Homo sapiens: one gene and its partner. The protein of the gene in region 2 interacts with the protein of the main gene of each other region in a pairwise test. Each region holds a gene or a part of one and is shown on either strand. Other genes may lie near its edges.

Region 1 (6,071 bases), on a different chromosome or scaffold from region 2:
ATGGGTGCAGAGACAGGGACTGAGCCGAGCCTGGATGGGTGCCCTCCCCCACCCCCACTCCCGTCTCCTCCAGGTCATTCAAATGGGGTGAATCGGACCCGCTGCCTTACGTGGTGTATGGCCACACAGTGCTCTCCCACATGGACCTTGTCTACGTAATTGGCGGCAAAGGCAGTGACAGGTGAGGCTGGGCCTGGAGTGAGTCTGTGGAGCAGAGGTAGAATCTCCCAGAGGCTGTCAGGGGTTTGTCCTGGCTGCCCCGGCAGGTGATTGCAGGGAGGCGTGGCTGGGCTCCTGCTTCTCTCCACCCATCCCCACCCTCCACCCCACAGGAAGTGCCTGAACAAGATGTGCGTCTATGACCCCAAGAAGTTTGAGTGGAAGGAGCTGGCACCCATGCAGACCGCCCGCTCACTCTTTGGGGCCACTGTCCATGATGGCCGCATTATCGTGGCAGCTGGGGTCACCGACACAGGGCTGACCAGTTCTGCCGAAGTGTACAGCATCACAGACAACAAGTATGAAAGCTTGTCCCTTCCGCCAAGGACAACTGCATGGCTTTGGGCTTCTGTCAGCCCCAGCAGGAGCTGCAGTCCCTGTCTTGGGTCTCCAGTGTTGACTTTGGACATCAGTATAGAAATAGGCTTTCTCTCCTGATCAGCAGTGAGGTGGGGAGGCGGGGCAAGGGTTATGGCCAGCCTGGTCTGCAGGAGGGGGCTCCCAGGGCTGGGGGAGGGGATGCCAGGTTCCTCATTCAGGGACTCATACCAGGCAATGGCCTGGTGCAAGGGATATAGCAGTGAACAAGACAGAAGCTGCCCTGCCTGGGACATCAGAAAAGAGAAAACTGAACTGAGAGACAGTTGGACTCAGCTCGCAAAAGGGGTGAGGGTGGTGGGAGGAGGTTGCCCCAGACTAAGGAAAGGTGGTGCTGAGGCAGTTTGGAGAAAAAACTCAAGGCCTATAGGAGGGAAGGTGTTGCTCCAGCTGGGTGGAGGTGGGTGGGTGATGGAGTTGGGATGGCGGTGCTGGGGCTGGAGCGGGGGCCAGCAGGAGAGGGACTGTATCTCATCTGTGTTCTACTAAAGTACTTCATGGCAACTGATATAGAGAGCAGATTAGGGATTTCCCAGGGGTCAGGAAGGTCAGGGGTGATAAAGGCCTGGAGCTGGGGGCACAGCGGAGATGGGGTTGAGGGGATGCACCGGACAAAGACAGGCCAGGGCTTCTTACACTGTGATGGGCATGCAAATCTCCTGGGGATCGCCTTAAAGTGCAGATTCTGATTCTCGGTATGCGGAGGGCTGAAAGCCTGTAAGTCTGCATTTCTAACGCACCCCCAGGAGATGCTGACGCTGCTGGGCCATGAACCACACTTTGAGTAGCAAGAGTCTAGGAGGTGGGAGAAACAGGGCTTAGCTATTGATTGGATGTGGGGGTGAGAGGGGGAGAAGTACATGCTTCTGAGTGAGGGTGGGAGGCCATTTACTGGATAATCATTGGGATTGGGTAGGGAAAGTGAGGGTCCAGTTAGGACATGTGGACTTGAAGTACCTGGGGGTGTCCAAAAGGACCCCACCCGGGAGAGAGAGGGCTGAGCTGGAGGGAGAGATCTGGGGGTCAGTAGCACACGGAGGGGCCAAGCTCCCTCAGGAGAGAGAGTGTAAATGGGAGGAGCTGAGGTCCAAGCCCTGATGGTGGAGGCAGCTGCATTATCCAGGAAGGAGGCCACGAAGGTGAGGCCGAAGAGATGGGTGAGGAAAGTCACGTCAGCAGGGCTGTGTGCTGTAGGACCTCAGTGCGTGTGCAGTGACTGTGGACCTCAGGAAGGTCAGTTTTGGAGGATGGGACTAAGGCCCAAGGCAGGAGCCAGGGTAGCGAAGATACATTGAGAACAACTGGGCTGTGAAGGGAGAAGAAGGATAGAGCAGGTGTGCAAGGTGGGTGGGGCTGCAGGGGCCGCTGAGGGGCAAAAGGACTGCGTCCAGGGCAAGGCTGGGGGCCTGCTAGGGGCTGGGGTTGTGAGTTGGAGGGTGGAGTTAGTTCAGGAGAGGAGTAGGGGCAGTGGGGAGATCCATGGTGGACTTTGCTGGACAGGTTGGATAGAATGGCAAGAGGACAAGGAAAGGAAAGTGGAGGAGCAAGAGAATGGGGAAGGAAGGGAAGACCAGAGGGACAGGGAAGGGGAATGGGGTTGGGGGCATGGGTGCCTGGGACTTGGATTGCAAAGGGTTGCAGTTGGAGCTGTGGGTGCTGGGTGGCAGGGACAGTCACTGGGCTTGCCGAGGCATCCCAATGATGCACCTTCTCACACACCCCCAGGTGGGCACCCTTCGAGGCCTTCCCACAGGAGCGTAGCTCACTCAGCCTGGTCAGCCTGGTGGGTACCCTCTATGCCATTGGTGGCTTTGCCACACTGGAGACGGAGTCTGGAGAGCTGGTTCCCACAGAGCTCAATGACATCTGGAGGTGAGTCCCACCCTGGGGAGGCAAGGGGGCATCATGAGCAAGGCTGACACCCCATAGCACCATGGTGGGGTACCAAGGCACTGGGCAAGCTCCTCTGGGGGCAAAGCGGATCCCTCTTCTAGGGAGTCCTGTAGGGAGGAATAGCCAACATACCCTGCTTGGCCGTTTCTCACCAGTTTGTTGGGAAAGTCTGGGCTTGCACAGATGACACCATGCCCCACTGTGGAGCAGCAACAGTGTTGCAGATGGGAGCAGACCCAAGCTTAGGTCATAGACTCACAGAAACAGGGCCCAAATAGCAGCCGGATTTTCTTCTCTCCTGCCTTCCGGGTGCTTGGTCTGGAGGGAGGGCTGCCACTAGGGCTGGGAAACAGTTGGAGCCCTGGCCTTTCAGAACCATTGCTCTCTATGGCTGGTCCTTTGTGGGGGTGGGAGAAGGAAACTTTAGCCTCTGGGGCATCTCCTTCCTGAACCTGCAGCCATCTGCACTGCTGCAGGCAGCCCCTGGGGAGCAGTGCTGCCGGAGGCTGAGACGTGAGACTTAGTAGAAATGGAGCATGGAAATTCTCAAGGAGAGGACATTGATGGGGTGGTGTGGGCAGTGTAGACCTTCCTGGAGGGGAACTTTGAGGAATATGGGAACACCCCTTGAGAGGTGATCTTTCCTGGGGAGAAAGACCCTTCCTGGAGTGTGGGGTGGGTGTTCCTTGGGGTGGGTCTTGTGGGGGGTCTCCTTTCCCAGAGCCTGGGGATTTTCAGGAGCAGATCTCCCTAGAGATGGGCCAAGTGCCCTCAGCCACCCCTCTCTGCTGCGTTCCACTCTGGACTCAGCTGACCAAGCTCTCCATCCTTGTCCCCACTCTCTCTCATCCCCAGGTATAACGAGGAGGAGAAGAAATGGGAGGGTGTCCTGCGGGAGATCGCCTATGCAGCAGGTGCCACCTTCCTACCAGTGCGGCTCAATGTGCTGTGCCTGACTAAGATGTGACCAGCTCAGGCAGACTGAACTAAGCACCCCTCCCATCCTGCGACCCTCACTGGCCTGGCCTTGTGGGGGCTCCAGAAAAGAGGCTAGGAGAGGCCAGAGTCTACCTGGATCCAGTTATGGTGCCTCAGGGGCTGCGTCAGCCAAGGAAAGGGAAGTGCTGCTTAGTCCTGGACTTTTGGGCAAGGGTGAGAAACTAGAGGCTTCTCCAGTGTTGCCATATCCCCCTAGGTTGTCTTGATCCATGAACCAGAACCACAGGGCGGTATCCCAGGCCGTGTGCTGGCCCTGCCCCAGCCTAGCTGAGTGTGCTGGCAAAGTTCCCCACAGGACTCAGCCTTCTCGTCTGTCCGATGGGAGCATCCCCATCAAGTGCAGTGTACAGTGCAGATATGTCTCCTTCTTTAGGAAGAATAAAGTGCCTTCTGAGCAAGCAGCTCAGGGTCTGCATCAGTGCTCCAAGAGTCAGTGAGCAGGTGTGTTGAAGACTTGGGGCTTCAGTGTTCTGCTGTTGGGCTGCCAAGGTCGATGGTCTCTGCTCTCCATCTGGTGTCCCCTCCACCCTATGGGTGGGAACCCTCCCCTGCCTGAGGCCTAGAGCCTCCAGCTCCTCAGCCACTATGGACGTGGAGCCAGGGGACTGTGGGAAGAAGGGTCAGGGAACAGCCAAGCTGTTGTAGAAAAGTCTTTTATTCTATCGGTCAGGCCCCATCTGGCCCAAGAATAGCTGAGCAGAGCCCATCCCTCTACCCGCTCCCTCCTACTCCGGCTTCTCTTTGTCCTGCTTCTGCTCCTCCTCCAGTGCCAAGGTTCGCTCACGCTCCTTTACCAGCTGGACGCCACAGTAGGTGACAAACAGGATGGACAGCGTGGTCTGGGGGAACCCTGTGTGGGGAGGGAGTCATAGATGCTCAGGAGCAGCACTGCATCCTCAGCGACTTTTGTCTTCCCACCCCTCTCCCCGCTTGATGGGCCCTCCCTTCTGAGTCCCAGGGGTGATGAGGGAGATAGGAGGCATTTTGGAAGGTCACGGTCCTTGAGGCTGATGCCTGGCACCTTCTGTATCCCCACACCCCTGTCCCTCACCTGTGAGTAGCAGGCGCCGGGCAACCAGCTCTGTGAATTTGAGGCTGTTCAGGCTCACAAGGTTGTACATGATGATGGCCCAGAAGTTCATGGCTCCAAACAGGGCCCGGACCCTACGGGACATCTGCACTGACAGAGAGGCCTATCCGGTCCAGGAAAGCATGGGCAGCGGGACAAGAGGCCAAAGGAAAGAGGACATGGTGGGTCAGCAGCCTTACCCACCTGGCCAGTCAGGTCTTGGGGCTATGTCTGGGTCTCGGAGAGCCCCAGGTCAGCTCTCCCTCCTTGTTAAACATGGGGAAACAGGTCCAGAGAGAGGACAAGGCCTGACCAACATGGCAAGGCCCAGGTGCTCCATTCCTCATAGAAGGGAGGGAGGGGCAGATTCCTACAGAGTGAGCCATTGCTCTGACAACTAAGAGGGTGGTGGTGAGAAAGTTCTGGATTAGGGGCCAGGTGTTTGGACAACTCCAGAAAGCAGCAGTGCCCCCCCGCCCTCTATGACCCAGCCAGTCCCAGCCCCAGGTCTTCCCTGCTCACCTCAATTCGTGCTAGGGGCCCCCACTCTGCCAGTTTTTGCATCCAGAGCTCAAAGTTGAGGCCAAAGCAGTTAAGGAATGACCACAGGTAGACAATGTCACAAGGCCCAAGCCACAGTGTGGTGATGGCAAATGTGGCCACTGTGGCTGCCAGCTCTGGGATCACAGCGGAATGCTCCCCACCAATGTGGTTATACACATATCTGCAGGAAAGATGGGAGAAGGGCCACTGGGAGTGTGGGAAAGGGCAGGGATGAGATGGGAGAGGACACACAACAGGGCGTCCTCCTCAACACTGTCACCCTGGGTGCATTCAACATTCCTGACCTCACGTAGCAGCTCCTCCTCCAACCAACTTCAAATTGTGGCAGGCTCAGCCTGGGACATTATAGCTTCTCTATCTCTGTTCGTTTACTTCCCAAATGATCTCATCCAGACCCAAGATTTCAAGTACTAGCTCTATGACGATGACCCCTAAATCTGTGTCTTTAGCCCAGTCTCTCCTGATTTGTATATGCAATTGCTACTAGCCATGTCACTTGATTGACAGATTCCCCTATCCCTGCTCAAACCCAGCTCCGTCCTCATCTCAGTGAATGGCACCACCATCCATTCAGTTGCTCAGGGTATAAGCCTTGGTGCCATCTTGGATTCTCAGTTTGCCTCATCACCCACATCCAAGCAAGCCAGCAAATTCTGTTGGCTCCTCTCAGTCCTGACCACCACTCACCTCCTCTACCACCACCACCCTAGTCAAGATGATCACTCTTCTCACATAAATTATTGCAAGAGCCTCTTAAGTGGTCTTCTTGTTTCTGCTTTTGCCCCCATGGTTCATTCTCCACACAGCAGCCAGAGGCATCTTTTAAGAGTGTAGCTCAGGTCACATCACTTCCATGATTAACCTCTCTGAATAGCTCCCCATTACAATAGGAATAAACTCAGTCTCTTTACTCTGGCTAGAAGATCCCAAGTGGTCTGGTTTCTGTTCC
Region 2 (8,179 bases):
CATATACTTTAAATCATCTCTAGATTACTTATAATACCTAATACAATGTAAGTGCTGCAAATAGTTGTTATATTGTTTTTTATTGTATTTTTTATTGTGCTTCTCATGTATGTATGTATGTATGTATATATATATATATATATATATATATATATATATATATATATATATATATTAATTTGTATAAATTTAAGGGGCACAAGTGCAATTTTGTTACCTGGATAGTTTGTGTAATAGTAAAGTCGGGGCTTTTAGTGTAGCCATCACCTGAAATAATGTACATTGTACCCATTAAGTAATTTCTCCTCCCTCGCCCCCTCCCACCCTTCGGTGTCTATTATTCCGCCTTCTGTGTCCTTGCATACACATGTTAGCTTCCATTTGTAAGTGGGTACATGCAGTATTTGGCTTTCTGTTTCTGAGTTTTTTCACTTAGGATAATGGCCTCCAGTTCCATCCATGTTGCTGTAAAAGACATGACTTCATTCTTTGATATGGCTGAGCAGTATTCCATTGTGTTTATGTACCACATTTTCTTTATCCAGTCATCTCTTGATGGGCATTTAGGTTGATTCCACGTCTTTGCTATTTTGACTATTACTGTGATAAACATACATGTGCAGAAATCAGTGTACTGATTTCTTGTTCTTTGGGTAGATACCCAGTAGTGGGATTGCTGGATTGAATGGTAGTTTTATTTTTAGTTCTTTGAGAAATCTTCATATGTTTTCTATATGAGGTTGTGCTAATTTGCATTCCCACCAGTGTGAGCATTCCCTTTTCACCACATCCACGCCAGCATCTGGTTATTTTTTGCCTTTTTAATAATAGCCATTCTTACTGGTATAAGATGATAACTCTGATGATGAGTGTTTTTCCGAATACTTTGGACCCACGGATGGGATGCTTGAACCCACAGGTGTGGTAGGCTGACTGTGTGTGTTGTAAGTGTCTTTTGTTTCTCTTTTTACTTTTGGGGGCAACATCAGATACGGAGGCAGAGCTGCCGTGTTTGACAGTCAAGGAACATCCTTCACATAGAATACGACGATGGCACCTCTGGAGCTGGGTTAAGGAACCCTCCCTGGTGCAGCATGTTGCCGTCGCAGGTCCATCCAGTGCCCTCCCTGTTTCATTCACGTGCTCTTCTTACCCATTCTCCCTCCATCCTATCCCTTCGCACCATCCTCTGCCATTCTCCAATGGTTGCTGTGATCCTCTTGTTAATTTTCTTGTGAACGTGTACTGCTTGCTCTGCAGCCGTTTTTATTTCACATAGGTGGTACAGAATTCTGTCTCATTTGATTTTGTTTCTCACTCGGCTCTGTGTTTGTAGGATGCGTCTGTGCTCGCTATGTTCCTCGGCTTCCTAACTGATGACAGTGCCCAAGGCAGCACCCATCACATTTCGCCCACGGGCACCCTATACCCTCCCCACACAGGTCCCCTGGCCTCAGCCCCTCAGTGCTTTCACCACAATGAGTTCTTATTCTTGTCAAGAGCTCTCACTGGGATAGTATCACTGCCTTTTGGTGTGCTTGCTTATTTTCATTTGTTGTTCACTTCCTGGAGTTCATACTTCACTCTCACTTCAGATTCTCCAGGGTCGATCCAGAGATCTGAGGGAGGGAGCCAGGAAGCCGGGCTAGTTCATCACTTTACCAGGAGCTGGCTTGCCAATTTTTCACAATCTAGATTATAATTTTTAAGTAGTTATTTATATATTGATACTTGACTTTTTTCCAAACTAGATGACTAAAAATGTCATTATAGCAAGAGCTTATGGAAAACGTTAGAAAAATTAAAAAAAATTCTGTTTATTAAGTACAGGGCACAAATGGAAGGGCATGATGCCTTTCAGCCTCCAGATGGCACTGTGATTGTAAGAACCATGTTTTTTCTGGACTTTTTGTCAGTTGCTTTTTTTTTTTTCCTTCTTTTTTTGAGACAGGGTCTCACTCTGTCATCCAGGCAGGAGTGCAGTGCCATGATCATAGCCCATTGCAGCCTTGAACTCATGGGCTCAAGCGATCCTTCTGCTTCTGCCTCCTGAGTAGCTGGGACTACAGGTGTGCACCACTACACCCAGCTAATTTTTTTAATTTACTTTTTTTTATAGAGACAAGGTCTCACTATGTTGTCCAGGCTGGTTTCAAACTCCTGGGCTCAAGTGGGCTCAGCTGCCCAAAGTGCTGGGATTGCAGGCCTGAGCCACCATGCTTGGCTAGTTCTTGATCTAGAACAGAAGGCAGCACACATTGCCTGTAAAATGTCAGTGGTGAATATATTAGGCTTTGTGGGCCAGATGATCTGTCACAACCACACGGCTCTGCTGGTGCAGCCTGAAAGCAACCATAGATAATACACAGGCAACTGGGCACGGCTGTGTTCAAATAAAACTTTATTTATAAAAACTGGTGATGTGCTGGATTGGGGTTGTAGTTTGCTGACTCCTAACTAGAATAGTGATTTTTTTTTTCTCACAATTTTATCATTGATCGACATATAGGCTACCAGAGTTCTCTTCATTGATACTGAACCAGTCTCTAGAGGTGGAAGGTGATGGTTGGGAGGTTGTAAGGGCTAAGGCCACTGGCGTGCCACCTTTCAGGGCAGAAATTGTGATATGGTTTGGCTGTGTCCCCACCCAGATCTCATCTTGAATGGTAGCTCCCATAATTCCCACAAGTTGAGAGAGGGACTCAGTGGGAGGTAATTGAATCATGGGGCAGGTCTTTCCCGGGCTGTTCTCATGAAAACAAATAAGTCTCATGAGATCTGATGGTTTTATAAAGGAGAGTTCCCTGCACACACTGTCTTGCCTGCCGCCATGTAAGACATGCCTTTGCTCTTCCTTCGTCTTCCACCATGATTGTGAGGCCTCCCCAGCCATGTGGAACTGAGTCCATTAAACTTCTTTCCTTTATAAATTACCCAGTCTTGGGTATGTCTTTACTAGCAGCATGAGAACAGACTAATGAGAACGAGTAGACTCTAAGCTAGGTAAGGGGAAGGGGAGACAGGCAGAGCATCCCCACCCCACCCCAACCCTCTGAAATCCAAGTAAGCAGGCAGACATACTTCCTTAGCTTTATTATATGTCTTCTCTCTTTCTCTCTCTTTTTCCCAGAGTAAACTTCATAGGAAATAAGTTTTCACCATAGTGTTCACATCCCTTCTCAGGGTGGAAGTCACCCACCATTTTAAAAACTAGAGCAAGAAGGGCTGGACTTGGTGGCTCATGCCTGTAATTCCAGCAGTTTGGGAGGCTGAGGCAGATGGAACACTTGAGCCCAGGAGTTCAAGACCAGCCTGGGCAACATAGTGAGACTCCCCATCTCTACAGAAATTTAAAAATGAGCTGGGCATGGTGGTGTACACCTTTGGTCCCAGCTACTCAAGAGGCTGAGGCAGGAGGATCACTTGATCCCTGAAGATCAAGGCTGCTGCAGTGAGCTGTGATCGCACTACTGCACTCCAGCCTGGGCCACAGAGTGAACCCTGTCTCTAAAAAAAAATAAAAACAAAACAAGAGTCCCTGGGCCCTTTGAATAAAAAGAGAGTAAAGAGGCTGGGCACAGTGGCTCACGCCCGTAATCCCAGCACTTTGGGAGGCTGAGGCAGGCAGATCACTTGTGCCCAGGAGTTTGAGGCCAGCGTGGGCAACATAGCAAAATCCCATCTCTCCAAAAAAAAAAAAAAAAGGAAAAGAAAAGAAAGTGAGTAAAGGCTTTTGGGTTATAAAGAGAAAGGGAGAAGGATGATCCAGACTAGAAAGAAGATTATTCCTTTCTTAGCTCAACCTTTTTGCTCCAAAAAAAAGAGGAGGAAGGGGCCAAACATAGATTATCCTGCACCAGAGGGCCAGCTCCTTAAATCTGAGTCTCATCCCAACCACCATCATTTGTAAAAACCAAGGGTGCATTCATTACCTGCAGTGCGTGGATCCCTGTGGTGCCATCATTATCATTTGAAGCTCCATCTCTGAAGCCTCTAGCTTTGTAAGGACCTACAGACCACTTCCCAAGTCATTGCAGGTTTATTTTTGTCGCATTTGAGCATAACCTCAGATTTGGCATACAATACGAATGTCACCTTGAACAGCTTCTCCTTGAATGGGGGCCTACTCTCCCCAGGTGCAGTGAGCACCGTCGTCTTTACATGAGTGGGCCTACACCACCCTGCTGAGTAAATCCATCTGTTCTGTTTCAGTAACTGTGGCCTCTACAAATGGGAACGGGACGGAATGCTAAAGGTATGCCATTTGCGTACTAATTTTTGACTCCTTTTAGTGACCCATGCTAATAATGTGGAACCATCTCCTATTAAAATATTTTCATTTTTCTAGGAAAAGACTGGTCCAAAGATAGGAGGAGAAACTCTGTTACCAAGAGGAGAAGAACATGCTAAATTTCTGAACAGCCTTAAATAACCCGAACTTCAGACATTTTCCCACAGACTTCCTGGCCTCCTGTGACTCTGGAAAGCAAAGGATTGGCTGTGTATTGTCCATTGATTCCTGATTGACGCCGTCAAAAACAAATGCTTGTTAAGCCCATAAGCTTTGCCTGCTTACTTTCTGCCATTGGGTTGGTTTGATACCACATTTAACATTGACATTTAAGTGGAAAACCAAGTTATCATTGTCTTTTCTAAGCTCAGTGTGGATGATTGCATTACTTCATTCACTGAAGTTTTTGCCCAAAAATTGGAAGGTAAACAGAGAGCTATGTTTCTGTATCTTTTGGTTATAGAGTGTTCACTTCTTTATCATAACAAAATTCTAGTGTTTATACGAACACCCAGAGGCAAAAGAATTTGGCTTAATTCTCACTCCAGGTAAGTAGCTTAACTTCTGGGCTTCAGTTTTCTCATCTGTAAAATCAGGAAGATTGGACTAAGTGATCCTGAAATGTATTTTTTAGCACTGGATTTCTACAAATAATAAAACTTTCCCATCTAGATAATGATGATCACATAGTCTTGATGTACGGACATTAAAAGCCAGATTTCTTCATTCAATTCTGTTATCTCTGTTTTACTCTTTGAAATTGATCAAGCCACTGAATCACTTTGCATTTCAGTTTATATATATAGAGAGAAAGAAGGTGTCTGCTCTTACATTATTGTGGAGCCCTGTGATAGAAATATGTAAAATCTCATATTATTTTTTTTTTAATTTTTTTATTTTTTATGACAGGGTCTCACTATGTCACCCTGGCTGGAGTGCAGTAGTGCGATCGCGGCACACTGCAGCCTTGGCTTCCCTGGGCTCAAGCAGTCCTCCCACCTCAGTCTCCCAAATAGCTAGGACTACAGGCGTGCGTGACCAAGCCCAGCTAATTTTTGCATTTTTTGTAGAGATGGGGTTTTGCCATGTTGCTCAGGCTGGTCTCAAACTCCTGAGCACTAGCAATCCACCCACCTCTGTTTCCAAAAAAAAAAAAAAAATGAAAGGTCAACCCCTATGCAAATTACCACAGCAAAGGTTTCATTCAGGAGATTCTTCCATCTGGGCAACCTGGTTTTCCAAATATCATTTGACCTAAGTGAATGTTGATACTAGCTAAAGATTGGGTAAATTGGTTGAATTATTGTATTGAAGCTTGAGCTGTAGCTAAAAGTAATTTAGGTTTCCCCTAAGATGTTATTATGTTAGGGACATAACACTTTTGGGAGGTTGTTGTGGGAGATGGTTGATTTAGGTTTTCAAAAGCTAGAAATAAAATTTACATGCCTTAGATTTCATAAAATTCTGCTCTAATTGGGTGGAAGGTGCTGTATCTAACTTGTGTTCCTCCTAAGGTTATGTCCTAATAACTATTCTTTTAGGAGTATACTTCTACTTTATAGAAGGTTGCTTTTCTTTTTAATTTTTTCTAACAAAGAAAAGAATAAAGTATTTATTAATAAGAACCAGAAAGCACTTGAAACTGATGTTTTTAATGGCTCATTTAGGGTAGATTTATTTATCTCATTAACTTAAAACAGCTATGTGTATGAAATAGGTCACAACAGAACTTGAACACCAGGTTGGTGTCTGAGCAATCCCTTTCTTATGGGAAAAACAATGTTCTTGTTTGAACAGAGGGTATCATTGCAGTCAGTATTCACGTGTATATTGTTATATAAGTTGTATAATATGCTTGTAAAGGCTGAGGGTGAGCTGTATCTGGATGCCTTTTTACAATTTGATTTTAACTTTTAAAATAAATTTAAAACATAATTGTCACTTCTTAGTTTTGCTCAATCTTGGGGGACTTTGCTTTGAGGTGCTCTGTGCATGTGCTTTCTTAGCATATTTGGGGATGAGACGCGGTCGGTAGGGGTGGGGTAGGGAAACTTGTTATTTTATTTTACTTATTTTTTTGAGACAGAGTCTTGCTCTGTCACCCAGGCTGGAGTGCAGTGGCGCAATCTTGGCTCACTGCAACCTCCACCTCGTGGGCTCAAGCAATCCTCCCACTTCAGCCTCCCGAGCAGCTGGGATTACAGGTGGGCGCCACCGTGCCTGGCTAATTTTTGTATTTTTAGTAGAGAAGGGGTTTCACCATGTTGCCCAGGCTGGTCTCAAACTCCTGGCCTCAAGTGATCCACCTGCCTCAGCCTCCCAAAGTGCTGGGATTACAGGCATGAGCCACTGTGCCCAGCCTAATCCTACCTTCCTTATCAACCTTTATGAAATGCTTTCATGCAAATCCAACATATGTGTTTTATTTTTCTTAACCTGTCATTGGTAGCGTAGGGATTAAATGTGTAATCACAGGCCACTGGAACAGGTAAGTACACAGTGATCTGAACTAGCAAACAAAAACAACCGTGTCCTTCAAGGAGAACCTGGTTGATCTAAAGTTAATAATCTTCACAATAGATTTTTTTTTTCTTTTTACTGTGCCTTTTTCTGTTTAGAGGAAATAAATGGCTTTCTAAAGAAAATCATCTTTGTCTCGAGTTTCGTTAAAATAAATTTTCCCTTTCCAAACATCAAAAGGAAATCTGAAGTATTTTAGATACCAACCATCCTGAATAGCAAATGAGGAACTTCTGAATAATGGGTGTGGAATTTTCCCCAAAGGGAACTTCAACATTCAAAGCTTCAGGCGGACTGATGGATAACAAACTTGACAGGAAGAGATCGCATGGATTGGGTTTCTGTGTAGAAACTGGTGATGACAGAAGTAAAGCTTGATGTTTGTAGCAGGTGAAATCATACCTAATGACATTTTAGAAAATCTGGAGCACAAATCTATGTGCGTAAGTATATCTCTAGTAGCAACCCATTAGGTGTAAAATAGACTTCTCTGATCCCATGGCTAGAGATTTGGAAATAATACAGCTTTCAAGAATGATGGGTGAAATCTGGCTGGGCGTGGTGGCTCATGCCTGTAATCCCAGCACTTTGGGAGGCTAAGGCGGGTGGATCACCTGAGGTCAGGAACTGGAGACCAGCCTGGCCAACGTGGTGAAACCCCGTCTCTACTAAACATGCAAAAATTAGCTGGGCATGGTAATGCACACCTGTAAGTTGGCTAAGTAATTTGGAAATAAGATCTGAAACAGAATTGGAACCAAATCTGTGGGAATGTTGCTTGACCAAGACTTCTATGGTAGGTTTTTGGTTTTTTCGGAGTCTCACTCTGTTGCCCAGGCTGGAGTGCAGTGGTGTGATCTCGGTTCACTGCAACCTCCGCCTCCCAGGTTCAAGCAATCCTCCTGCCTCATCCCCCCTAGTAGCTGGGATTACAGGCACGTGTATAGTGATATTTTTAAAATCAACTGTGTTAAAGTATAAATTTCTTACAGTAAAAGGCGCATATCTTAGGTGTGCAGTCAGCTGCATTTAGACAAATGTATACATCTGTGTAGCCACACCACAAGCAAGATACGAGACACTGCCATCATCCCAAAAGGCCTGTACCTCTTCCCAGCCCCAGCCCCAACCCATCAGGCATCTATTTTCTGTCACTATTGTGTAGATTTGTCTTTCCTAGAATTTCATATACACAGTCATACAGGACACACTTTGGCTTCTTTCACTGGGCATAATATTTGGCAATTCATGTTGCATGGATCCATGGTTTATTGTGTTGTATGAATATGCCCCAGAATTTATTCACCTGTTGGTGGGCATTTGGGTTGGATTTCCAGTTTGGGGGTGTCCTGAATAAAGCTGCTATAA

The links. The genes of interacting proteins can lie anywhere in the genome.
Region 1: the proteins of MCM10 (region 2) and KLHL40 interact in binary tests that used the Homo sapiens proteins (3 or more experiments, as listed by UniProt).

What each region holds. Positions count from the first base shown.
Region 1 is NC_000003.12:42,688,537-42,694,607, forward strand, and holds the end of KLHL40 (kelch-like protein 40), read left to right. Parts: intron 1-73; coding exon 74-181; intron 182-332; coding exon 333-518; intron 519-2,322; coding exon 2,323-2,469; intron 2,470-3,345; coding exon 3,346-3,457; 3' UTR 3,458-4,008; downstream 4,009-6,071. Other genes in the region: HHATL (protein-cysteine N-palmitoyltransferase HHAT-like protein), read right to left, coding at 4,215-4,339, 4,541-4,682, 5,081-5,282. UniProt on the Homo sapiens protein: Substrate-specific adapter of a BCR (BTB-CUL3-RBX1) E3 ubiquitin ligase complex that acts as a key regulator of skeletal muscle development.
Region 2 is NC_000010.11:13,204,879-13,213,057, forward strand, and holds the end of MCM10 (protein MCM10 homolog), read left to right. Parts: intron 1-4,212; coding exon 4,213-4,255; intron 4,256-4,348; coding exon 4,349-4,432; 3' UTR 4,433-6,232; downstream 6,233-8,179. UniProt on the Homo sapiens protein: Acts as a replication initiation factor that brings together the MCM2-7 helicase and the DNA polymerase alpha/primase complex in order to initiate DNA replication. Additionally, plays a role in preventing DNA damage during replication.